Homo sapiens: one gene and its partners. The protein of the gene in region 1 purifies or fractionates together with the protein of each later gene. This does not show direct contact. Each region holds a gene or a part of one and is shown in the gene's direction. Other genes may lie near its edges. The genes, in order: ADAR, DHX9, POLD3, BTRC, CACNA1C, NCBP1 and TTC9C.

Evidence for each region.
Region 2: the proteins of ADAR (region 1) and DHX9 purify together in Homo sapiens (affinity purification with western blotting; 3 studies listed by BioGRID and IntAct, with this or other methods). This does not show direct contact.
Region 3: the proteins of ADAR (region 1) and POLD3 purify together in Homo sapiens (tandem affinity purification; one large-scale study listed by IntAct). This does not show direct contact.
Region 4: the proteins of ADAR (region 1) and BTRC purify together in Homo sapiens (affinity purification with western blotting, with the first as the bait; 2 studies listed by BioGRID). This does not show direct contact.
Region 5: the proteins of ADAR (region 1) and CACNA1C purify together in Homo sapiens (co-immunoprecipitation; one large-scale study listed by IntAct). This does not show direct contact.
Region 6: the proteins of ADAR (region 1) and NCBP1 purify together in Homo sapiens (co-immunoprecipitation; one large-scale study listed by IntAct). This does not show direct contact.
Region 7: the proteins of ADAR (region 1) and TTC9C fractionate together in Homo sapiens (co-fractionation; one large-scale study listed by BioGRID). This does not show direct contact.

The regions. Positions count from the first base shown.
Region 1 is NC_000001.11:154,598,187-154,601,686, reverse strand, and holds part of ADAR (double-stranded RNA-specific adenosine deaminase), read left to right. Parts: coding exon 1-646; intron 647-3,101; coding exon 3,102-3,285; intron 3,286-3,500. UniProt on the Homo sapiens protein: Catalyzes the hydrolytic deamination of adenosine to inosine in double-stranded RNA (dsRNA) referred to as A-to-I RNA editing.
Region 2 is NC_000001.11:182,845,847-182,849,346, forward strand, and holds part of DHX9 (ATP-dependent RNA helicase A), read left to right. Parts: intron 1-3,500. UniProt on the Homo sapiens protein: Multifunctional ATP-dependent nucleic acid helicase that unwinds DNA and RNA in a 3' to 5' direction and that plays important roles in many processes, such as DNA replication, transcriptional activation, post-transcriptional RNA regulation, mRNA translation and RNA-mediated gene silencing.
Region 3 is NC_000011.10:74,623,582-74,627,081, forward strand, and holds part of POLD3 (DNA polymerase delta subunit 3), read left to right. Parts: intron 1-1,826; coding exon 1,827-1,992; intron 1,993-3,500. UniProt on the Homo sapiens protein: Accessory component of both the DNA polymerase delta complex and the DNA polymerase zeta complex.
Region 4 is NC_000010.11:101,357,165-101,360,664, forward strand, and holds part of BTRC (F-box/WD repeat-containing protein 1A), read left to right. Parts: intron 1-3,500. UniProt on the Homo sapiens protein: Substrate recognition component of a SCF (SKP1-CUL1-F-box protein) E3 ubiquitin-protein ligase complex which mediates the ubiquitination and subsequent proteasomal degradation of target proteins. Recognizes and binds to phosphorylated target proteins.
Region 5 is NC_000012.12:2,695,719-2,698,450, forward strand, and holds the end of CACNA1C (voltage-dependent L-type calcium channel subunit alpha-1C), read left to right. Parts: 3' UTR 1-2,232; downstream 2,233-2,732. UniProt on the Homo sapiens protein: Pore-forming, alpha-1C subunit of the voltage-gated calcium channel that gives rise to L-type calcium currents. Mediates influx of calcium ions into the cytoplasm, and thereby triggers calcium release from the sarcoplasm.
Region 6 is NC_000009.12:97,640,321-97,643,820, forward strand, and holds part of NCBP1 (nuclear cap-binding protein subunit 1), read left to right. Parts: intron 1-473; coding exon 474-562; intron 563-1,241; coding exon 1,242-1,342; exon of another isoform or gene 1,343-1,348; coding exon of another isoform or gene 1,349-1,371; intron 1,372-2,883; coding exon 2,884-3,040; intron 3,041-3,500. UniProt on the Homo sapiens protein: Component of the cap-binding complex (CBC), which binds cotranscriptionally to the 5'-cap of pre-mRNAs and is involved in various processes such as pre-mRNA splicing, translation regulation, nonsense-mediated mRNA decay, RNA-mediated gene silencing (RNAi) by microRNAs (miRNAs) and mRNA export.
Region 7 is NC_000011.10:62,734,986-62,738,485, forward strand, and holds part of TTC9C (tetratricopeptide repeat protein 9C), read left to right. Parts: intron 1-396; coding exon 397-579; intron 580-3,302; coding exon 3,303-3,397; 3' UTR 3,398-3,500.

The DNA.
Region 1 (3,500 bases):
CTAAAAATATTGGCCTTACCAAGGCCCGAGATATAAATGCTGTGCTAATTGACATGGAAAGGCAGGGGGATGTCTATAGACAAGGGACAACCCCTCCCATATGGCATTTGACAGACAAGAAGCGAGAGAGGATGCAAATCAAGAGAAATACGAACAGTGTTCCTGAAACCGCTCCAGCTGCAATCCCTGAGACCAAAAGAAACGCAGAGTTCCTCACCTGTAATATACCCACATCAAATGCCTCAAATAACATGGTAACCACAGAAAAAGTGGAGAATGGGCAGGAACCTGTCATAAAGTTAGAAAACAGGCAAGAGGCCAGACCAGAACCAGCAAGACTGAAACCACCTGTTCATTACAATGGCCCCTCAAAAGCAGGGTATGTTGACTTTGAAAATGGCCAGTGGGCCACAGATGACATCCCAGATGACTTGAATAGTATCCGCGCAGCACCAGGTGAGTTTCGAGCCATCATGGAGATGCCCTCCTTCTACAGTCATGGCTTGCCACGGTGTTCACCCTACAAGAAACTGACAGAGTGCCAGCTGAAGAACCCCATCAGCGGGCTGTTAGAATATGCCCAGTTCGCTAGTCAAACCTGTGAGTTCAACATGATAGAGCAGAGTGGACCACCCCATGAACCTCGGTAAGAGACCACCCAGGAACTGTACCTAGGGTTGGGGTCAGGTGCTTTTGCTCCTGACGCAGTCTTGGCTGATTTGTGAGCAGTGCTGTTTGGTGGCGCCTATCTTTTCCTCCTTCCCTTCTGCCTTTTAGCTAAATTCCCCTTGATTGGCCCTTTCTCCAGATATTGAGCAGGGAATATAGACCTTGGACCAGCCAGAATCTTGGCTGAACAAGGGGGAGGTTGACTCTGTTGGCTGTAATGAAGCTTCTTTAGAAATGATTGGTTTTGGCCGTACGCGGTGGCTCATGCCTGTAATCCCAGCACTTTTTGAGGCCGAGGCAGGCATATCACGAGGTCAGGAGTTTGAGACCAGCCTGGCCAACATGGTGAAACCCTGTCTCTACTAAAAATACAAAAATTAGCTGGGCGTGGTGGCGTGCACCTGTAGTCCCAGCTACTCAGGAAGCTGAGACAGGAGAATCACTTGAACCCAGGAGGCAGAGGTTGCAGTGAACTGAGATTGCGCCACTGCACTCCAGCCTGGGCCACAGAGCAAGACTCCATCTCAAAAAAAAAAAAGAAAGAAATGATTGGTCTTGGGGGCCGGGGCGGTGGCTTACGACTGTAATCCCAGCACTTTGGGAGGCCAAGGCAGGCAGATCATGAGGTGAGGAATTCGAGACCAGCCTGGCCAACATGGTGAAACCCCATCTCTACTAAAAATACAAAAATTAGCTGGGGGTGGTGGTGCTTGCCTGTAATCCCAGCTACTCGGGAGGCTGAGGCAGGAGAATCACTTGAACCCAGGAGGTGGAGGTTGTAGTGAGCCGAGATTGGCGCCACTGCACTCCAGCCTGGGCGACAGAGTGAGACTCCATCTTGGAAAAAGAAAGAAAAAAGAAAAACATGATTGATCTCCATGCATCAATATCATGCCTGCCTCCTAAGGCAGAGGTAATGAAGACTTAATTCCCTTCTGTAGGCCTTCCCCTCCTCCCTAAGCCGTTTTCTGAGAGAGGTGCAGGAGCAGGTGGGTTGGGGCAGGCTGCATACACAGTGGGGGTGGGTTGTGCTGCTAAGCAGCAGCAGGTCCACAATCCCCCCTCTGCATAGCTCCTGGGGGGAAAGGATGGAGGAGCGTGTGCACGGCTGCCTGCCTGTTGAAGGTGGTGGTTCTAATTTTATAAACCTCCTCTGCACAGATGGGTAGGCTAGCACTTGCTGCCACTCCTGAGCTGTGAAGTCAGCCTTTACCTCACTCAGATAGCTGGTCAGGCCCTGCACTGTAGGTCCTAATAGGCCAGTGGACAGATTGAGGAAAACAGGAGCTTCTGAAGGGCATAACAGAGAGCAAAACCACTGAAGCTGAGTGGCTGCAGCTGCAGCCAGGGAAAGAGCCAGTAGGATGGGGGAGAATTCCACTGACCTTTATGTTTACCTAGCCTGGTTTCTAGGGGTGTAGATTCCTGGCTAGGGCCCTTATTCCTTGTCTTGACTGTCTTCATGACACCAATTTGGCATTTCAGGAGAGCGGTTAAGAAAAGGAGTTGTGTCTGTCCAAAAGCTGGCAAGGCCAGAGCTGGATTGTTTGGGGTAGAGACTGGATGGCCGTCATTCTCTTTTGCCTCCATCCCTCCTCCCCAGAGTTGGAGGAAAGCAGTGGATTTTGTGGTTAGTCATTCTTTGGACTCACACTAAAAGAAACATTGGTGCCATGTTCAAATATATCAGAAGACCTAGGAAATAAGAAATTTGACCTACTTTTCTAAATGAAATCCCAGACTGAGCAAAGAGCTCACCACATTTGAAAGCTTGAACAAAGGGGGCCTAGGCTAAGTCCAGAGGCCTAGAACAAATGCTTTTTTATTTTCTACATAACAAGGGGAAATTCCTTGTTATGTAGAAAATAGCTGGAGACAAATGGTGCTATAGAGTGACTCATAACAAACTACGGTGATATAGGTCTAGGGACAAAAGCAGGCCACTGATAAGTGGCAGATGCCTGATCCCCCTAGGTAGTGGGGAGTGTGAGACTGGGTTATAAGAAGCCTTCACTATCTTTTAGGACCCTCCCTTGAGGAGGCCAGTCTACCACAATTGCTTTAGAATGAAGGTCTTTTGGTTGCTCACAAGACTATAATGGTAATTTTTGGCTCATCATTTTTGTGTGTGTGGGTTTTATCTTAATTCATTGTTAAAGAGATAGTGGGTTTCCCCTGAGCTAGTTTCCTATCATCTGTGCCTATGTTTGCTTCACTGAGCTATGGGGAAAGAGTCACTGGCTGCTTTGTTTACAAAAAGAAAGGACAGGCTGAGCCTTAAGGAGTAGGAAGGAGTTCCTTGGCCTACCCTTCATCTCCACAAGTGAAAAGCCCCTTAGCGTAGCAGAAAATTCCAGGTTGAAGGTCTCTTTGGAGAAGGCAGAAGGAGTGACCTAGACTCCTGTTCACACATCTAATCACTTTCCGTCAAGATTTAAATTCCAGGTTGTCATCAATGGCCGAGAGTTTCCCCCAGCTGAAGCTGGAAGCAAGAAAGTGGCCAAGCAGGATGCAGCTATGAAAGCCATGACAATTCTGCTAGAGGAAGCCAAAGCCAAGGACAGTGGAAAATCAGAAGAATCATCCCACTATTCCACAGAGAAAGAATCAGAGAAGGTAGGTGTCCTCCTGCCATCTGGGAGGATCAGTTCCCTGTCAGTGTCTGGATTGTAACTGACTCCCTTGAGGCAATCCCAGCCTAAACAACTGACACCATCTCGGAGTCAGCTTCCCACTCTTCCCTCTACCCTATCTCGCCAGCCCACCTTTCCTCCTCTCATACCCAGCTCCTCTGTCTGCTCCTGTCCCAACATAATTGGATTTACAGAATT
Region 2 (3,500 bases), about 28 Mb from region 1:
CAAGATATGGCGGAGGCAGCAGGGAGCTCCCATGCCCTGCCTCGAACACCATTCTTCAGGAACCTCCACCTGTTCGGCCATTTGGAAGCCCTCCAAACCCTGTCCTTTGGTTTTTATGGAAACTTCATTATTCAGTATTGATTAAATCGTTGGCCATTGGTGACTTGACCTTCAGCCCTTCTCACTTCCCCAGAGGCTGGGAGGTGGGACCGAAAGTTTCAGCCCTCTAATCTTTCCTTGGTGGTTCTGGTGACCATCCCCCCACACCTGAAGCTACCTAGGGCCTGCCAGCCAGCAGTCAACTCGTTAGCATACAGAAAGTCTCCACTTAGGAGATTATAAGGATTTAGGATTTCTATGCCAGGGAAATGGGATTGAAGACCAGATGTACTTTTTTTTTTTTTTTTTGAGATGGAGTTTCGCTTTTGTTGCCCAGGCTGGAGTGCAGTGGCATGATCTCGGCTCACCGCCACCTTTGCCTCCGGGTTCAAGCGATTCTCCTGCCTCAGGCAGGAGTATCTGGGATTACTGGCATGTGCCGCCATGCCCGGCTAATTTTGTATTTTTAGTAGAGACGGGGTTTCTCCATGTTGGTCAGGCTGGTCTCCAACTCCCAACCTCAGGTTATCTGCCCGCCTTGGCCTCCCAAAGTGCTGGGATTACAGGCGTGAGCCACTGAGTCCAGCCAGAGACCAGATAGGCTTTAAAGATAATATGACACTGTCTACTTGCTGTTTTCTGTAAGAAGTCAGCTATAATCAAATCACTCTCTCCCATATGTAATGTGGTAGTCTGTGTTTTTAAGATCTTTTCCTGTTATTTTTGGTTTTTAGTATTTTGTGTTGTGACCGGGCATGGGTTTTTTTGTATGTGTGTGTTCTAACTTGTTCAAGGTTTGCTGAGATTATTGAATCCATAGATTTATGTATTTCACCAACTTTGAGAGACTTAGCTATTATTTAAGATATTTTTTGTTTTATTTTTTCTTCTTTCCTCTTGGTGTTTATATTTATAAAGACTTGATATCCCACAGGTCCCTGAGGCTCTCTTTTTTTTTTCCTATCATTTTTTCCACTGTTTCTCAAATTGAATAATTTTTATTGATTATCTTCAGATTCTTTGATAGTTTTTTCTGTCCCTTCCATTTTGCTAAGCCCACCCAGTGTATTTCAGACACTACCTTTTTCACTTTTAAAATCTCCAGCTTATTCTTTTCTGTATGTTTTCTCTGGTGGCATTTCTTTTCATTCGTTATAAGTGTATGTTTGTAATATAAATATGGATTTCTTTTATGTCATGAAGCTTAATTCTAATAGCTGCTTTAAAATCCTTGCCTACTACTACTAACATCTGAGTCATCTCAGGGTTGGATTCTCTTGATAGGTATATTTTCTTGAGGTTGGATCACATTTTCCTCTTTGTGTATCAAATAATTTTTTATTGCATTCTGGGCATTGGAATATTATGCTGTGGAGACTCTGAATAATGTTATACTCCTCCAAAGAGCATTGATTTGGTTTTTTTGTTTTGTTTTGTTTTGTTTTTAATCAGGCATTTAATTTAACTGGACTCAAACTGCAAATGCTGTCTTTTGGATGTTAACTCAGATCTCACCTCAGTTTTCTGATCATTTAGGACAGCCATGGAAGAGTCCTTCAGGTCTCCTTTGCTGGGCAGCTTGGAATCTGCCCTGTACATGAGTGGTTTTCAAGGGTTAGCCAGAGATTTCAATATACAGAATTCGGGGCTCCTCCTCTCTGGCTGTTTCCTTTCCAGCATTCCCTCACTTTCTAGCAGCTTTGCTTTCCCTGAACTCTAATTCTGATTCTTCAGGCCAAAAAGATGGTTTCATTGGAGGTTTAGCTGCCTGGGATGGCTTCTCTCAGGCTAAAAGCTACAGTAAACTGGAATTAGACCCTTGATACTCCGTGCTTCCCCATTTTAACTTCTCTCAAGAATCTACCTGCTTTTTTCGTTCATTTTTTATTGCCTGCATATAGTTCTGGTGTGTTGTGTGTGTGTTTGTATTTTTTCCCCCTAAAGTTTATTTTACCTGCAGGAGGGTCAGTCTTACAGGAACTTACTTGGCTACAACCAGAAGTAATCCCCTAGGTGATTTTTTTATTATTGTTTTAACATGGCTCAGGTGTTTCCTATTAAATGCTCTGTGGATTTCCTACTTTCTTCCTTATTTCCTCTGTTCCAGCTACAGTAGCTGTACTTCTTCATAGGTCTTCAAATAAGCCCTCATCTTTCTGCCTCAAAACTTCTATACCTGAAGGACTCTTCCCCAGCTGTCCTATTTAACATTATAAACATTGTCACCCTCAGGTTACTTCCTAAACTCCTTCAATGCTTTATTTTTCTCCGTAACACTTACTTTTTAACTCAGTGTTTCTCAACTGGAGACCATTTTGTCCCCTCAAGGGATGTTTGGGGATGTATGGAGATATTTTTGTTGTTGTAACTCGAGGAGGCCACTGACATCTAGAAGGTGAAGGCCAGGGATGCTGCTAATGACCTACAATGCACTTGACAAACTCCTACAACAAAGAATTAACCAGCCTAAAATGTCACCAAGATGAGAAACCTTGTTCCAACGTAATTTATTTTTGTTTCATTGTATTAGAATGTAAGTTCGTGAGGGCAGGGATTTTTTTGTTTTTAGTTCGTTGCTGTGTCTCCAACATTTAGAATGGTTCCTGGTCTATAGCAGATACTTAAATGTTTTTTGGTTGACTGAGTAAATGAATGGATGAATTTGGAAAAAAAAATTATAACAACCCATTTCTACTTTTAACCCCACTGTATTATTAGTCCATTCTTGCATTGCTATAAAATACCTGAGACTGCATAATTTATAAAGAAAAGAGATTTAATTGGCTCACAATTATGCAGGCTTTACAGGAAGTGTGGTACTGGAATCTGCTTGACTTCTGAAGAGGCCTCAGTAAACTTAGAATGATGGCAGAAGGTGAAGGGGAAGCAGGGATGTCCTACATAGCAGGAGCAAGAGAAAGTAAAGGGGAAGATGCCACACACTTTTAAATGACCAGATCTCATGAGAACTCACTCACTGTTGCTAGGATAGCAGTACCAAGGAAAGTGGTACTAAACCATGCATGAGAAACCCACCTCATGATCCAGTTACTTCTCACCAGGCCCTACCTCCAACATTGAGGATTAAAATTTGACATGACATTTGGGCAGCGATACGTAACCAAACTGTTACCAGCTACCATCTTTATCTTACCTCCTCATTCTAGGGAAATCCTTTTTCATAATCACTTATTTCATCTGGAACTTACCCTTTCATGCCATAAATTGCATTTGCCAAAAGTGAGCATGTAGAGGATATTTTAAAATTTTTTTTGCTGTGGACAATTGTAGATGTGTATAAAAGAATAATATAGTGAAACTCCATGTTTCCGTCATCTGGCTGCAACACTTTCAATTTTACTCATTTCTAACTACTCCCCTTTCTTAGATTATTTTGGAGC
Region 3 (3,500 bases), on another chromosome or scaffold:
ACGCTGAATGTAAAGTGATGAATTTTATTGTATGTGAATTATATCTCAATTTTTAAAAGTAACGCTTTATATGTAATAAAATTCAGCATTGATGACAAAATTTAAAGGTCATAATTGGTTATCTTTATTTGCTTGAAAAGGTTTCGTGTTTTCTTGAGTATAAAAAGGAAATGCTTTTAATCAGCTAGAAGATAGGTGACTTGATCATTCAGGTAACAAAAAAAGTCATTAAATTTTCCTTAATAATTGCCTTACAATGTTGCATTAAACTACCTCTTTACCAGTTAATTGGCTATTGGTAGCTGCATATATGTTTAAGTTGGAGTTCTCAAAATTCTGTGAAACCAAGACAGAAGAAACTCTGGATGCTGAATCTAATGTTTGATCAGTGGCATTTTAATTCAGATCAGTTTTCTGTAATTGGTAAACTCAATGCAATAGCCTCTCTTTCCTTAATCCATAGGTAGGTAGGAAGTATTTGGAGGTTTTTTTCTCCTAATGATGCAATTTTTAAAACAATTGCTATTAAAACAATATAATTTATGTGATAGATTGCAAAATTTGCATAAATTTTAAAGCTACACATGTGACTCCAGTGAACTGTATTTTTTGGATTGGCTGTTGACCCCTAGACCCCTGGAGATGCATGTTTACTCTTCTATACAATTTGGGATATTTGAGAGGCACTGATACTTGAGAACAACAGTTGAAAATGCAAGAGTATGCCATCGTTGGGAAGGTGGATTCCACCATTCGCATTTTCCATTCAAGTCTTCAGGAAAAAGAAAAGTATAAATAGATTGCATTTTACACTTTGGTCCATCAACTACCCTTCAAATAATACACATTATTTATAAATTATTGTACTAAGCTATGCATAATAGCCCAGACTATGATACCAATTTTTTTCTACACTGTAGATGGTTTAAGCTATTATACAACATATAACCAAAACTACTTATTGAAGCACCTCCAGCTAATGACAGCTTTCTAATAGTATTTTGTGCCTTTACTTGTGAAAAGCTATCACTAAGTACAGCGTGAAGGCTAGATGACATGCTTCTATAGTTCCTCAGATGGCTAGGCCTGTTTGCATTTCTTAGTTCTCCCTGCTGCACTGTAGTCATTCTTCAGCTTGGTGTAGGGAAAGGGTTAAGGACTTTGAGGAGTTAAACTGACTTTGGTTCAAATCCCTACTCTTTTCTGTCAGTGTTACCTGGATAAATCATTTAACCAATACTGATCTCTTTTAATCCTTATGATAATCTTGTAAATATTATCTCAGGTTTAGAAAAGACTGACTTAGATAAAATAACTTGCCCAGAGTGAAGCGGGGTTTGAACCAAACTTCTTTGACTCCAAAATAGTCTTTAAATTTTATCATTAAGGTAGTAGTGAGATATTAAGGGTATCCAGGCATTAAAAGATAGAATATATAGAAAGCAAAGGTCTTGCTGCAAATCGTTGTCACCATTTGTAAACTGTGTATTGTTGGGAAACATCTTGTAATCCTTCTGATTCTTGATTTTCCTCATCTGAAAATGAGAAGGATGATGCCTCATAAAGTTGTATGTGTTTTTTCTAAGCCTTGCTTTTACTATCATTTAGCCTGGGGGCTGTGATACAATGAGGGATTAGCAGGAGGCAGAAATGAAAAGTTACAGTTAGAGTGGTAGTTGGAAAGGAGGAATGTTTCTGAATAGTCCATGAGCTCCTTTTTGCCCCTGCTCCTAACATATTACCTGGCACATGGTAGACTGTCAAAAGAATGATGTATTAATATTGCATGATGGGGTCATATGTCGTCTGCTATACTTTATTTATAGATAAATTTAAAGTCAATTTGGACTCAGAACAAGCAGTGAAAGAAGAAAAAATAGTGGAGCAGCCTACAGTGTCTGTCACGGAACCAAAGCTGGCAACTCCTGCAGGCCTGAAAAAATCCAGCAAAAAAGCAGAGCCTGTTAAGGTGCTGCAGAAGGAAAAAAAAAGGTAGGAAAATTTTGTTGCTTATTGGGGAAGAGTCTTTACTGGGGGTGAGAAGGTCTCTTTGGGCTTATTGACAGCAGGCAGTTTTCAGTTAAGTACTAAATCCTACTTAATGCCTAAGGGATACAACTATACAACCAAAATGGAAAGAGAAGCCCAGTAGCTTATCTAGTGGAGTAGGACCGTAGGATCAGCCAGTTTGGATGATTTAAGGACCAAAGTCGTGTTTTTGGCCGTATTGATCTAAATTGATTGTTGATTTTTGTTTTAAATTTGTGGACATGGCATAAGTGTGCCTAGTTGTGTGTGTGTGTGTGTGTGTGTGTGTGTGTGTGTTTCACTTCAAATTGCCAAATGAACAGTTACTGTTTCCAGTCAAATTTAAGAGAAAAACTTCTTTGTTTTCTTTTTATATCAATGAGTTTATTTTTCAAGTGGTAAAATGTAATTAGAAAAGAAAATAAAAAGCACATAAAGCTATTAAAACTAGATCCAGGAATTGGAGACACTACCTCATAGTTGGTAGAATTAGTCTGCTGAAAGAAATTCTAAAGGACACTGTCAACACTGATAGGCCTAGAAAGACGACTTTTGTGGCAAGTTTGGGACTACTCTCGTTGAAAACATCAACAAAATGGTGAAATTTTAGAGGGTTAAAGCTCTGTCCAGTGGGCCTCACCACCTAGGAACATATGACTTGTATGGATTAAAATGTCCACAACCATGGGTACGTCACTCACTGTTGATACTTATTGCCAGCAGTGCATTCAGTATTTCACTACTAAATGTGATGATAAATGTAGATTTTTAATAGATGCCGTTAACCAGATTGAGGAAGTTGTTTTTTGTTCCAAGTCTGCTAAGAGGTTTTATCATGAGTGGGTATTGATTTTGGACAGATGCTTTTTTGAATTGATTGGATGCTCAGATGGTGTTTTTATTAATGTGGTGAATTACACTGATTTTAAAATGTTAGGCCAACCTTGTGTTCTTGGGATAAACTCCACTTGGTTATGATGTATTATCCTTTTTTATATATTGCTGGATTAGATTTGTTAATATTACACTAAGCATTTGTTGCCTGTGTTTATGAGGTCTACAGGTCAGTTACATTCTTTTCTGGTAATGTCTTTATCAAGTTGCTGTGTCAAAATTGTGCTAACTTCATAAGATTACTCATGCGCTGCATAACGATGTTTGGGTCAACAATGGGCTGCATATATGACAGTGGTCTCGTAAGATTATAATGGAGCTGAAAAATTCCCATTGCCTAGTGACATCATAGCTGTCATGACATGGTAGCGCAACACATTCCTCACGTGTTTGTGATGATGCTGGTATAAATATACCTACTGTGCTGCCAGTCATGTGAAAGTATATCATATATATTAATAGTTATATATACATAATACTTGATAATAAAAATGACTATGCTACTATAATTACTGCACTATACTTTTTATCATTTTAGAGGGTAGTCTTTCTACTTATAAAAAAAGTTGACTGTAAAA
Region 4 (3,500 bases), on another chromosome or scaffold:
AGGCGTGGTGGCTCATGCCTGTAATCCCAGCACTTTGGGAGGCTGAGGCGGGCGGAACACGAGGTCAGGAGATTGAGACCATCCTGGCCAACATGGTGAAACCCTGTCTCTACTAAAAATACAAAAATTAGCCAGGCCTGGTGGCGCGCACCTGTAGTCCCAGCTACTCGGGAGGCTGAGGCAGTAGAATCACTTGAACCCAGGAGGTGGAGGTTGCAGTGAGCTGAGATCGTGCCATTACACTCCAGCCTGGGTGACAGAGCGAGACTCTGTCTCAAAAAAAAAAAAAAAAAAAAAGGAAGCTATTTGAGCTAGCATCAAATAATTAGTGCACAGTACACATGGAAGAACTATCCTTTTAATCAAACGGGCATTTTTATTACTATTTGGCTTTGTTCTGGTCTTAACCTTTCCCTCAATTGTGAATCGCTAATGACAACTTTTATACAGATGTCATGATTTCCATGGTTTAAACAAATGTAAAATTAGTTTAAAATGCCAGAATGAAATGGATACTCTCACAAATTTGCTCATTGCTATACTAAAGTGCCTTGATAAAGAATTTTACAATAAAATCCTGTTAATAAGACTGCTGATTCAGAGATGACCATAATTCACACGTGATCGAGACTTAAAGCTTATTGTTTTACTTGTGAAAAAAGTTTAAGCAGAATGTTTAACTTTTAAAAACAAATAAATGATATTGAAAGCAACGGTTTACATTAACTTACGTGCTAATGTCTCTCATTCAGCTTTAGCAGGTCCTCAAGGACCTTTCTTAATACTTTTTTGGTTAACAAAAGTATAAATGGAAACTTGAAGAGAACCTAAGAAGAGAAATGAAAATGATTGAGGGAATATAGACCCCAAAACACACAAACACACACACACAAGCACGTTTAAGATAGGGGTTGAAAAGACATACTGAGGAGGAATTTGAACTTTATTTTTGTTTTCACCTTTGAGACAGGGTCTCACTATGTTGCCCAGGCTAGAGTGCAGTCATAGCTTGCTGCAGCCTCAAACTCCCAGGCTCACATGATCCTCCTGCCTCGGCGTCTCAAGTGGCTACAGGCACACACCACTATGCTGGCTATTTTTTTTTTCTTTTTTGTTTTTGTAGAGACAAGGGTCGCCCTTTGTTGACAGGGGTGGTTTTTGAACTCCTGGGCTCAAGGGGTCCTCCTGCCTTGGCCTCCCATTGTTGGGATTACAGGCGTGAGCCACCTTGCCAAGCCACGTTTATTTTTAAAAACAGGATAAATATATTCTTGTCCAGCCAATCCCAGAATCAAGTACAGTAGCTTGAAATAGATGAAATAATTTTAGAATGTATTGTTTTATTTATAGAGCTGATAGATAAATGAAACAGTATAAAGGGTAAATATTTGCTGTTTAACAGACAACCTCAAAACTTAGCTTAAAAAAAACAATTATTTTTCCCCTCAAATCTGATGGTTTTTCTGCTTCACTTGGTATTGGCTGAGGTGTGGGAAAGACCTTCACTTCTCCTCTATATGGGCCTTTCTCTACCTGGCTGCTTGGATTTCCTTAAAGTGTGGTGGCAAGGTTCTAAGAAGGGACATTCCAGGAGACAGGAGGTAGAGACTGCCAGTCTTCTAAATCCTAGATTTGGAAGTCCAAGAATGTCACTGTGGGTCAAAGCCAGTCAAGGCCAACTACAGAGGGAGGAGAAATAATGTCTACCTATTGATAGGAAGGGTGGCGTGCATAAACAAGGAAGGGGGAATTGCTGGGGGCCACCTTTTGAGACTTGCTACCGTAGGTGCTATGCTAGTTGGATGTTAAGGCTAAAAATAAAAATGGTATCGGCCAAGTTTGTGGGTCATAATGCTAGGAATGTTTAGGAGGCATCTCTTTTTTTGAGGTTAACTTCGGAAGGCACTAACATGATCTCCTGCGTGACTTCCCTTAATGATGTCACTGTTGACATAATACTGGGTGAATTAATGTGATTAAGTAAACTTGCTTACTTACTTCAGGAAACAGAGGTATCTAAACAGATTACATTTTAAAATAAATTGTCAGATGTTTCACTGTAATGGAATTTTCTTTACATCAGTGAAATTGATTACCAGGTAGTGGGATGAACATCTGAAACTAGTTCTTAGTTTAAGTTGTCTGAGTTTTTGTGTATACTTTACCTATTCCCAGTTTAAATTGGCTTTCAAACAGTTTGTTTTCTGGGTACTCTTATAGGTGTTGGGGTATGAAATTAGTGGTAATTCTTTTTGCCTATTTTCTTTTTTTTTGTCTGAGATACCCTGAGTCTCGCTCTGTTGCCCAGACTGGAGTGCAGTGGCACAATTTCGGTTCACTGCAACCTCCGCCTCCTGGGTTCAAATGATTCTCCTGCCTCAGCCTCCTAAGTAGCTGGAATTACAGGCGTGTACCACCTTGCCTGGCTAATTTTGTTGTATTTTTTTTTTTTTGAGATGGAGTTTTGGTCTTGTTGCCCAGGCTGGAGTGCAATGGTGCAAACTCAGTTCACTGCAACCTCTGCTTCTGAGGTTCAAGTGATTCTCCTTCCTCAGCCTCCCCTGTAGCTGGGATTACAGGCATGCACCACCACACCCAGCTAATTTTGTATTTTTGGTAGAGACAGGGCTTTTCCATGTTGGTCAGGCTGGTCTCGAACTCCCAACCTCAGGTGATCTGCCCGCCTTGGCCTCCCAAAGTGCTGAGATTACAGGCGTGAGCTGCCGTGTCCGGCCTCTTTTTGCTAATTTTCTAAATTTATGTTTATAGTAGATTTTCATAAATTATCAAAAGTGAATTATTAGATGTGGAGTAAAAATTCAACTTTGAGTAGTTTTAGAAATTATTTATTGCTAAATTAGAAAATAAACTTTCAAAAGAGATCTCTTTTTTTTAAAAAAACTTAATTGAGACAGGGTCTCACTCTGTCACCCAGGCTGGAGTACAGTGGTGCAACCTTGGCTCACTGCAGCCCCTACCTCCTGGGTTCAAGCAATTCTTGTGCCTCAGCCTCCCAGGTAGCTGGGAATACAGGCATGTGCCACCACGCCCAGCTAAATTTTGTGTTTTTAGTAGAGACAGGGTTTCACCGTGTTGCCCGGGCTGGTCTCGAACTCCTGACTTCAAGTGATCCGCCCACCTTGGCCTCCCAAAGTGCTGGGATTACAGGCGTGAGTCACTATGCCTGGCCTAGAGATGGGATCTGCTTTTTTTTTTTTTTTTTTTTTGAGATGGAGTCTTGCTCTGTCACCCAGGCTGGAGTGCAATGGCACGATCTCAACTCACTGCAACCTCCGCTTCCCAGGTTCAGGCAATTCTCCTGTCTCAGCCTCCTAAGTAGCTGGGATTACAGGCACCTGCCATCATCCCTGACTAATTTTTGTATTTTTGTAGACGGGGTTTCACCATGTTGGCCAGGCTATTCTTGAACTCCTGACCTCAGGTGATCCGACCGCCTCGGCCTCCCAAAGTGCTGGGATTATAGGCATTAGCTACCGCGT
Region 5 (2,732 bases), on another chromosome or scaffold:
CCATGGGCAGATGCTTACACGACCTCTTTGTGAAGCCTCTTCTGGGTTTAACTTCATTCATCAATTTATTCTTATGTCAAAGCAATGAAACTTTTCTTTCTGGAGCCAGATACCAATACAACAGGTGAACGGGTTTCTGCCACATCTCTACATTGACGGGGGATGCTTGAACAACCCCCCTCACTACACAGACACACACCGTTAAGGCACAAGGGCTGGGGTTGAGCTCTAGATGAGGGACTTTCCTGCTCCTGCAAGGGTGAGCACTGTATACACAGACAAGGAGGGTGCAGTAGAGTGACTCCCTTGGATGGAAGTAGTACCATCAGAACCTACTATTATTATGACATAAATTCTATTTACATACATTGAGAGAATACTACAATCAACACTTTTTCCTGGGATGACTTTAAGAGGTTTGAGCCACAGCACCTGAAGTGGCAAAGATCCATGGTCTTTGTAGGGTATTAGAGAACTCTTCCAGTCACCTCTGAAAGCACTCTAGATCTTGCAGCTGAGTGGATGAAGTGTAACAAATCTGTTGCACGCTGAGAGGAGTCAGAATTAGCATTTTTCATGAAAGTTCCCCACGTCTCTACTAAGAATGAGGAAGAAAAGACTAAGACTAGGTAATTACACAGAGGCTTGAAATGTTACATCACCAGAGCCAAGTCCTCTCCCTTCAGATCAGTTACTGGCTGCTACACAGGGACACCCCCACCTTTTCAGGGCATCCCATGCACTCCACTTCTCAGGATCTAAGGAATTTGACTTTGTAGGGATCCCAGAAAGGGCACTGTGCCACTTCCCCTGGTGTGAATCAGACATACATTGTACATTCATTTCTAAAATTCACTCATGCACCTCAAACCAAGGTCATTATCCAAAAAAAAAAAAAAAAAGCTCTGGGTGGAAGAGTTTGTAAGTTTTAAGAGAGGGTCATTTCTATGTGAGGAAATGCAGAAATGGACAGAATGATTCTTATTCACTGTTTGGGTCTGGAGAATTCCCATTGTGGAAATCTTAGAGATCTCAAGTTTATTACCAAGGGAATAAGGAAAAAAAGGTGAGCAGGCACCAGGCCAAGCAGTGGCTCCCTTGCCAAGGAACCTGAGGCTGCAGGTTTCAGGGACCCCCTTGAAGAAACCTCTCCTGGCCATTGGCCAGGAGAAAAGAGAAGTCTCTCCTGTAGAGTCACAAGAGAAGCAAAAGAGGGTGGGTCACTGGGTCCTGGACATAGCCCCCAACCCCAAGACTTCCCAATATGGAGAAACTACACCAATGTTTAAAAGGGGAAAAGGAAAGAACTTGTACATCAAGGGAAGATGATTTGTAAACACACAGTCCTGTGCAGAAAGATCCCCTTCAGGAGGTGTCTCCAGCATCCCAAAGCTGTGCGCACCTTCTCTTTTCCTGCCTCAGGCCACCTATGCATCCAGCTGCAGCCCATACCCACACCTGAAATCCATCTCTTGAATCCCAGCCAGGTTATATACCACCCCATTGCCATGTCCTGTCCTGGCCAGAATGCATGCTGTTCCCCCAAGCCTCGTGGGAGTGAGGCCATGGGAAACAGAGATGAGCATGTCTGGACAAGTCTGTGATGGTAGTGGATGAGAATAACCCATGGCAAAACACGCACATTCATTAAGAAATAGGGCGACAGATTCCCCGTTGGTGAAGCACTGAAAGGTCTATTACTCTCATAATATTGCTGTTTTATTTTAATCCACCAGAGCTACCATGCAAAACTTTCCTCCTGTGAAACGCTCCAGATAAAGCTCCTCTAATCTCCCCTTCCCTCATGTCCTCCAGCTCAAACCCACCTTCATCCCCCAAACCAATCTGTATCATGCCTGTTATCAGAGAGGCACAGAAAGATGGGCAGTGCCTCCGTTGTCACCATTCCCCACACCCCTACACACCCCCACACCCTCCCCTCCAGGCTCCACGACTTCACAGTCTTACTGTTGTAAATATCATTGTACAGTTTGTAATCCTCAAATAATCCCATTGTCAGAGGCCTCGCCTGATGGGCCTTCTCACCCTCGAGAAAGGCCAGGGAATCTAGAAGGGGCAACCCTTCAAGGAGAGCTTCAGGGTCATCTCTGTGTGAGACACTATTGTATATTCCTGTAAGATTGCATTTTTATCTAAGGAATGATGTTATTTAAAAAACAAACAAAAAACACAAAAAATAAGAATTGCAAATAAATTTCTTAACAATGTCTACATTGACTTCATTGTATCTTCCCTCTTCCTTATTTCTTCCTTTCTCCTGTTTCCTAGAGGTCACAAATACAAACTTCACTCAGTTATCTCAACTGTCTGGGATCCCCAAAAGGAAGAAGACTGGAGAGAACACAGGAAATATGAATCCAATGATAATACCTAAGTCCATTCAGCAGTTAACCCATCCCCTATTTCTTCCTTCTCATGAAAGAGTTGACAGAAAAATGGCCAAAAGTTAAAAAGGAGACAAAATCAGAGGAATTAAATGGCTAATTCACATGGATTAGACAGGAAAAGCAGTCTCTGAAATTGGTTTTGAAAGGACAGAAGGGAAGAGGGATGGAATGTAGGAGAGAAGAAAGGAGGGGGAGATATGATAATATATAAAGTACTATGAGGACTATACAAATGTAAGATTGCTTTTCTTTTTTTTTGTTATTATAACTTAATCTGATTTCGATAAACCTTTCAGAATAACCCCTTAAGTAAAAATAATTTGT
Region 6 (3,500 bases), on another chromosome or scaffold:
TTGGTTTTGCACCCTTATTTTGTCATTTACATAATACATTATTAGACTAATGAATACTACTGGTACTAACAGGTTTCGGAACAAGCAACTGAGGATCAGTAAACAACTCAAGTTAAAAGAATGGGAGTAGCGGTACATGAGTATTCTAACTACTAGTGTTTAACATGTTGTTGGCAGCTTTCCAGCTTGTCCACAGAAATGGACAGGGCTGCTGATTGCATAGCTCCATGGGCACTACTCACACAAAATTTAACATAAATAATGCCTCCTGGAGTTATTGTATATAGTGGCTCTGGGAATGGGAGGCTGTTGGTTAATCTAGCTTAGTCTGAGAAATGGAGGGTCTGTGAAGAGCTTCTACTCTGTAAAAACATAGGGCCTGGTAGAAAAGAGATTATAACCTAAAAAGGTTAAATAAAATTTGTGATAGCAGATTTATCATGTAATGTTAATTTTTTATGTTGCTGAAATAGGTGGGCAGCCTCACAAAAGGAGAAAGACCTCTGATGCAAATGAAACTGAAGATCATTTGGAATCTTTAATATGTAAAGTAGGAGAAAAGGTATGTCACACAATAGGCACAGGCTGTGATGGGTTTAAGAATGTGGTTAACTGTGCTTTGATTAATTTTTGCAGCTGAAAAGTTGGACTACATTTTGGCAAAGCTGGTATTACCATGCATCTGTATCCCAAATTGAATCCATGTTGAAGCCCCTGGGATGTAGATAATTGATCATTTTTAGTACTTTAGTAATTAATAATTTTCATAGAAGATGAGCCCTTAGAAGGGACCTAGGGTATAGACCCCTTAATTTATGCATGAACTAAATCAGCCCTGAATACTTGAGGTAATTTGCCCAGAGTAAGAGAGTGAATTAGTAAAAGAGGTAAAATGGAGCCCATGGTGTCCTCCCATTTCTAATACTTATTCTGTTATCATAGACTGCTTAGTTTTTAAATTTCACTCGTCCACTTTTCATGGATTTCTGAAGAACAATAACTATCTGAATTGATTTATACTAAACCCATTATAGCTCTGTATGCATGTAAGACTATTTTAATGATCATGCAGAAGTTTTTATTTTAGTTCACTAAAATAGCAATTGAAAGGACAGATGATTGGTAATGATTTTAAAATGATAGATTTTAAAATATGTATATATTTACATTTAAATAGATTTTTAAAAATAAATTTATGTTGCTGAGTACTTGACAGATATTTAATGTGATGTCCTCTACAGAGTGCCTGCTCTTTGGAGAGCAACCTAGAAGGCTTGGCTGGTGTTTTGGAAGCTGATCTTCCTAACTACAAGAGCAAGATCTTAAGGCTTCTTTGTACAGTGTATGTATGCAAAAGATTTATGAATCCAGGTGATAATGTATTATCTACTCTTAAATGCTTTGGGAAATGTTCAAAATACATGTTTATGTTCTATATGTCCTTGGCTTTACTTCTATGGGGAAATTTGTACAAATGAGCCAACCTTTGGCGCTTTGGCGAACTCTTTTTCTTAGGGATAAAACTAAAATTGAACATTTTCCTTGTATGTTCTTACAACCTTAGAATCATTTTAGTTGACTTTTTATAGAGATAGTAGATACTGTCTCATTCAGATATATATTTTTAAGCATGTACATTTAAATGTATGATACTTACATTTTTAAATTAGTACCAGACAAATTTGGGAATTGGTAACTCAGGTAATAGCCCTTCTTGGAAGACTGAAGATGCTTTGGAAGCCACTGTTAATAGGCATACTCTCTGGATAAATGGGAGTCTTTGTAGTTACATGAAATTGTAATGTATCCATGAGGTGTTTTTAAATTATGAAGGTGATGTTTATCACTTCTCAGCCTTTTAGTTTAGATCAAGTGAAGGTAACTTTAAGAAACTACTAAGGAAATCTTCTGAAATCCTTTATTAAAATGGAGTAGTATTTACACTTAAACTGTTGGAAGCCTTGTTTGTTTAAGGCTGAACTTGTATTGCTTCGCAGTGTTCTTTTTTAATTTTTGGTTTTGGGAGGGTTTCAGGGACCACAGTTACCATCAACACAGGTATTTTTTTTGAAGACCTTGATTGTCCCTGATGTTCTGCTAGGTACTTTAGGAAAACAAGTCAAAGAGAATCTCTTGCCCACTTAATGATTATGAATTCTTATTGCTTTTTGAGCTAATTCTAAAGGCTGCCTAAATTAGGAAAAATTGCTTTTTCTAAAGGTTTATTGTAATCCTTTCCCATACTTTTAAAATAACTTTAATGAAATCAGCACACTTGGAGTAAGCAACTGAGACGTAAACAAATCTTAACTATATCAGAGTATGTTTTTAAAAAATTCAATAATTAAACTGGTAGGAACTTAGATGAAACTCGTTTTAATTGTGCATCTTTTCTAAACAACTAGAATAGTGTTTCTCAAAGTAGAATTCTAGTTCCATGACATTTGGTTAGCTAAGTTTAGAAATTCTGAATGCTGCACGCCCCCCCTTAATGATTCTGTATTAAAGAGGCTTGTTTCACCCAGGATTTCTGAGCTATTTTACCATGGAAACCATGTTCTGTGGAAATGCTATTCAGTTCCACTAAGCACACTTGAAGAAAAACTGTTGTAGCATTAGTTTTATTTATTTCAGTATGATAACTTTACAATTAAATCATTTACTTTCTTAACTCTTAGATTAACTGATGAATTAAAATGAAAAATTACGGGACTATGTCTGTAACATTTCTCAATGACATGCTTTTTCTGAAGTATTTTTAAAGACATAGCTAAAAGTAATCCTGTTCCAAAGTTAATGGAATGATAAAAAGATTCACATAAAATTCAGCAACTTAACGCCATTGTTTTGGGGTTTTCTTGTTATACTGGGTTCTTAAATCAGTGCACGCCTATTACCTGAGAAGCTGACAATTTATACAACATTAGTTGGACTACTGAATGCCAGGAATTACAATTTTGGTGGAGAATTTGTAGAAGCCATGATTCGTCAACTTAAAGAATCATTGAAAGCAAACAATTATAATGAAGCCGTGTATTTGGTAAGTTAGTTTGTTTGTTGGTATGTTATGACTACTGTTGGGATGGAGGGAAAAGGTGAACTACAACCAAATAATTTAAAATGCTCTCCTAAAACATTCTCATTCACTTTCATAGCTTCATAAGCCACCTTTATTTTGACGATACCCCCAAATCTGTAACTGTATCTCCAACCTTTCTCCTGAGCTCCAGTCCAGTATTCCAGATGCTAGCTGCATAGCCTTCAGATACCTTACTAGGAAGTGCCTAAATTAATGCATCATTCATACCTCCTTTTTTCTGCCCTCTCCCCAGCTCATACAGTGGCCACTGTGTACTGAATAACCCATCTAGAAAGCTGAGCATTAATTTTTGTCTTCCCTTTGCCCTCTCGTACCATAGGTGTTCCCAATCCCTGTCAATTCTGTCTCCCTAATTTCTCTCAAGTCTGTCCTTTCTTAGTCTCCAGGGCCTCTAGCATAG
Region 7 (3,500 bases), on another chromosome or scaffold:
TCCCAGGTCCAAGCGATTCTCTTGCCTCACCCTCCCGAGTAGCTGGGATTACAGGCATGCGCCACCACACCTGGCTAATTTTTATTTTCAGTAGAGACGGGGTTTCTCCATGTTGTCAGGCTGATCTCGAACTCCCGACCTCAGGTGATCCACCCGTCTCGGCCTCCCAAAGTGCTGGGATTACAGGCATGAGCCACTGCACCTGGCCGATATGTGAAGCTTTTATTCACTGCTGCATCCCCAGTGTGTAGAAGAGTGTCTGGCATATGGGAGACACTTTAGCATTTGTTGACTGAATGTTGTTACCACCCTGTTCAGTACTGTCTTGAGCTGGCCAGTGGAACCTGGTGTAACGAGCCCCTCCTACCTCTTCTCTCTTTTCATTTGGCCCATTAGCTTGTCTCCTTCAGATGGAGCCCGTGAACTACGAACGAGTGAGAGAATATAGTCAGAAAGTCCTGGAACGACAGCCTGATAATGCCAAGGCCTTGTATCGGGCCGGAGTGGCCTTTTTCCATCTGCAGGACTATGACCAGGCCCGCCACTACCTCCTGGCTGCCGTGAATAGGCAGCCTAAAGGTAAGCAAGAAGGGCTTTGAAATGGTAAAGACAAAATTGTCTTGCTGGGGTGGATCTGTGGAAAGGGGGTTTTATTTTACTTTGCCAATGTATTATTTTCAATAAGTAATACATTCACATGGTTGAGAATTCGAACTGAAAAAGTATACGATGAACAGACCTTTTTCCACTCTTGTGTTCTTGTCTCCACAGAAAAGCAGTATTATTAGTTTCATGTGTAGGGGGTTGATGCTTAATCAGACATACACAATATATATGTTGGTATGTCTGTTTCATATATGTATGTATGCCTATTCTAATATATAAATATATGTATATCAACGTGCTTTTATTTATAAATATACAGTGTATATATTTATACATATACATGAATATATATATAAAATAGGCAGGCCAGGTGGGGTGGCTCACATCTGTTATCTCAGCACTTTGGGAGACCAAAGTGGGTGGATCACCTGAGGTCAGGAGTTTGAGACCAGCCTGACCAACATGGAGAAACCCCATCTCTACTAAAAATACAAAATTAGCCAGGCATGGTGGCGCATGCCTGTAAACCCAGCTACTCGGGAGGCTGAGGCAGGAGAATTGCTTGAACCCAGGAGGCGGAGGTTGCGGTGAGCCGAGATCCTGGGCAACAAGAACGAGATTCTGTCTCAAAAAAAAAAAAAAAAAAAAAAAACAGTGTTGTTTTTTGGGGCTGGGTACGGTGGCTTACACTTGTAATCCCAGCACTTTGGGAGGCCAAGGCGGGCAGATCACCTGAGGTCAGGATTTCAAGACCAGCCTGGCCAACATGGCGGAACCCATCTCTACTAAAAAAAATAAAAATACAAAAATCAGCCGGGTGTGGCCGGGCGCAGTGGCTCACACCTGTAATCCCAGCACTTTGGGAGGCCGAGGTGGGCGGATTACGAGGTCAGGAGATCGAGACCATCCTGGCTAACATGGGGAAACTCCGTCTCTATTAAAAATACAAAAAATTAGCCGGACGTGGTGGTGAGGGCCTGTAGTCCCAGGTACTCAGGAGGCTGAGGTAGGAGAATGGCATGAACTTGGGAGGCGGAGCTTGCAGTGAGCTGAGATCCTGCCGGTGCATTCCAGCCTAGGGGACAGAGGGCGGCTCCGTCTCGGAAAAAAAAAAAAAAGCTGGGCGTGATGGCAGGCCCCTGTAATCCCAGCTACTTAGGAGGCTGATGCAGGGAGAATCGCTTGAACCCAGGAGGCAGAGGTTTCGGTGAGCTGAGATTGTGTCGCACTCTAGCCTGGGCGACAGAGCCAGACTCCATCCCAAAAAAAAAAAAAGCGAGTGTCGTTTTTCAAGTTCTGTTCCTGGTCTTTAAGAGTGATTGGAGGCTGGGCATGGTGGCTTATGCCTGTAATCCCAGCACTTTGGGAGGCCAAGGTGGGCGGATCATGTGAGGCCAGGAGTTCGAGACCATCCTGGCTAACATGATTAAACCCCGTTTCTAGTAAAAATACAAGAAATTAGCCGGGCGTGGTGGCGGGCGCCTGTAATCCCAGCTACTCGGGAGGCTGAGGCAGGAGAATAGTGTGAACCCGAGAGGCAGAGCTTGCAGTGAGCCAAGATCGCGCCACTGCACTCCAGCCTGGGAGACAGAGGGAGACTCCATCTCAAAAACAAAACAAAACAAAACAAAAAAACAGTGATTGGAATAGGATGTGTGAATGCCAACAAATACACTTGATAATTTTCATTCTGCCAGTTCTCCAAATGGGGTCTGGCCTTTGGTTTAGCTATCATTTTTATCCTTTAGCTCAGCTAACCCCAGGTATGACCTAGAAAAAGGGCAGTCCTGCTGAGAGAGAATTTGGGACTTACTTTGTTTCCAAGGCAAAAAGGATATTGTGAAGCAGATGAGAGACTCATTCCTGTGTTGGTTGGTTGAGCACTGAAAATTGTCTCCCTTTTGCATTCTGGCTTACAATAGCCACTGGATACTAGTAGCAGAGTCACCAAATGTATAGCAGTGCAGTAAAATCTCATCTAAATGAATGAGAAAGCCATTATGAATTAATAAAGATATAAAATATAAGCCATTTGTTCATGTTTCTCAGCATCCAATACATAAATTAACTGCCACCTATATGAATAGTATCTTTAGAGGCTCTATTTTAATGATAACTGCTTCATCAATCTTGCTTTCATTATGAAATTAGCAACCAGTGTCCAGGCATGGTGGCTCACACCTGTAATCCCAGCACTTTGGGAGGCCAAGGCGGGTGGATCACGAGGTCAGGAGTTCCAGACCAGCTTGGCCAACATGGTGAAACCCCATCTCTACTAAAAATACAAAAATTAACCAAGCATGGTGGTGCATGCCTGTAATCTCAGCTACTTGGGAGGCTGAGGCATGAGAATTGCTTGAACCCGGGAGGCGGAGGTTGCAGTAAGTGGAGATCCCATGCTATTGCACTCTAGCCTGGGTGACAGAGCGAGACCCTGTCTCAAAAGTAAGTAAATAAATAAAATAAATAAATAAATAAATAAATAAAAATTAGCAGCCGGGACAGAGATTGTTTTTTTTCAATTCCAAATGTTATTAATTAATGAGATTTACTATTGCATAGAATGGTTGCGATATATTCAGATCTTGGAGAGATTTTAAAATGGGAGCATGTTAACATTCTCTCCTGCCACAAGGTATGATTATGGTCTTAACTGACTCTAACTGTTTCTAATTGCTTCTCCATCATCTTCCAAGATGCCAACGTCCGGCGGTACCTCCAGCTGACACAGTCAGAACTCAGCAGCTACCATAGAAAAGAGAAGCAGCTCTACCTGGGCATGTTTGGTTAACAAAGAAGAAAGATGCTCCTCCAGTTGAACTTAGGTGGACCATTAAACATGCATGAAGGAGAAATCTGAGCCTCAGCAAGAGAAATTAACCCTATACCTCTGA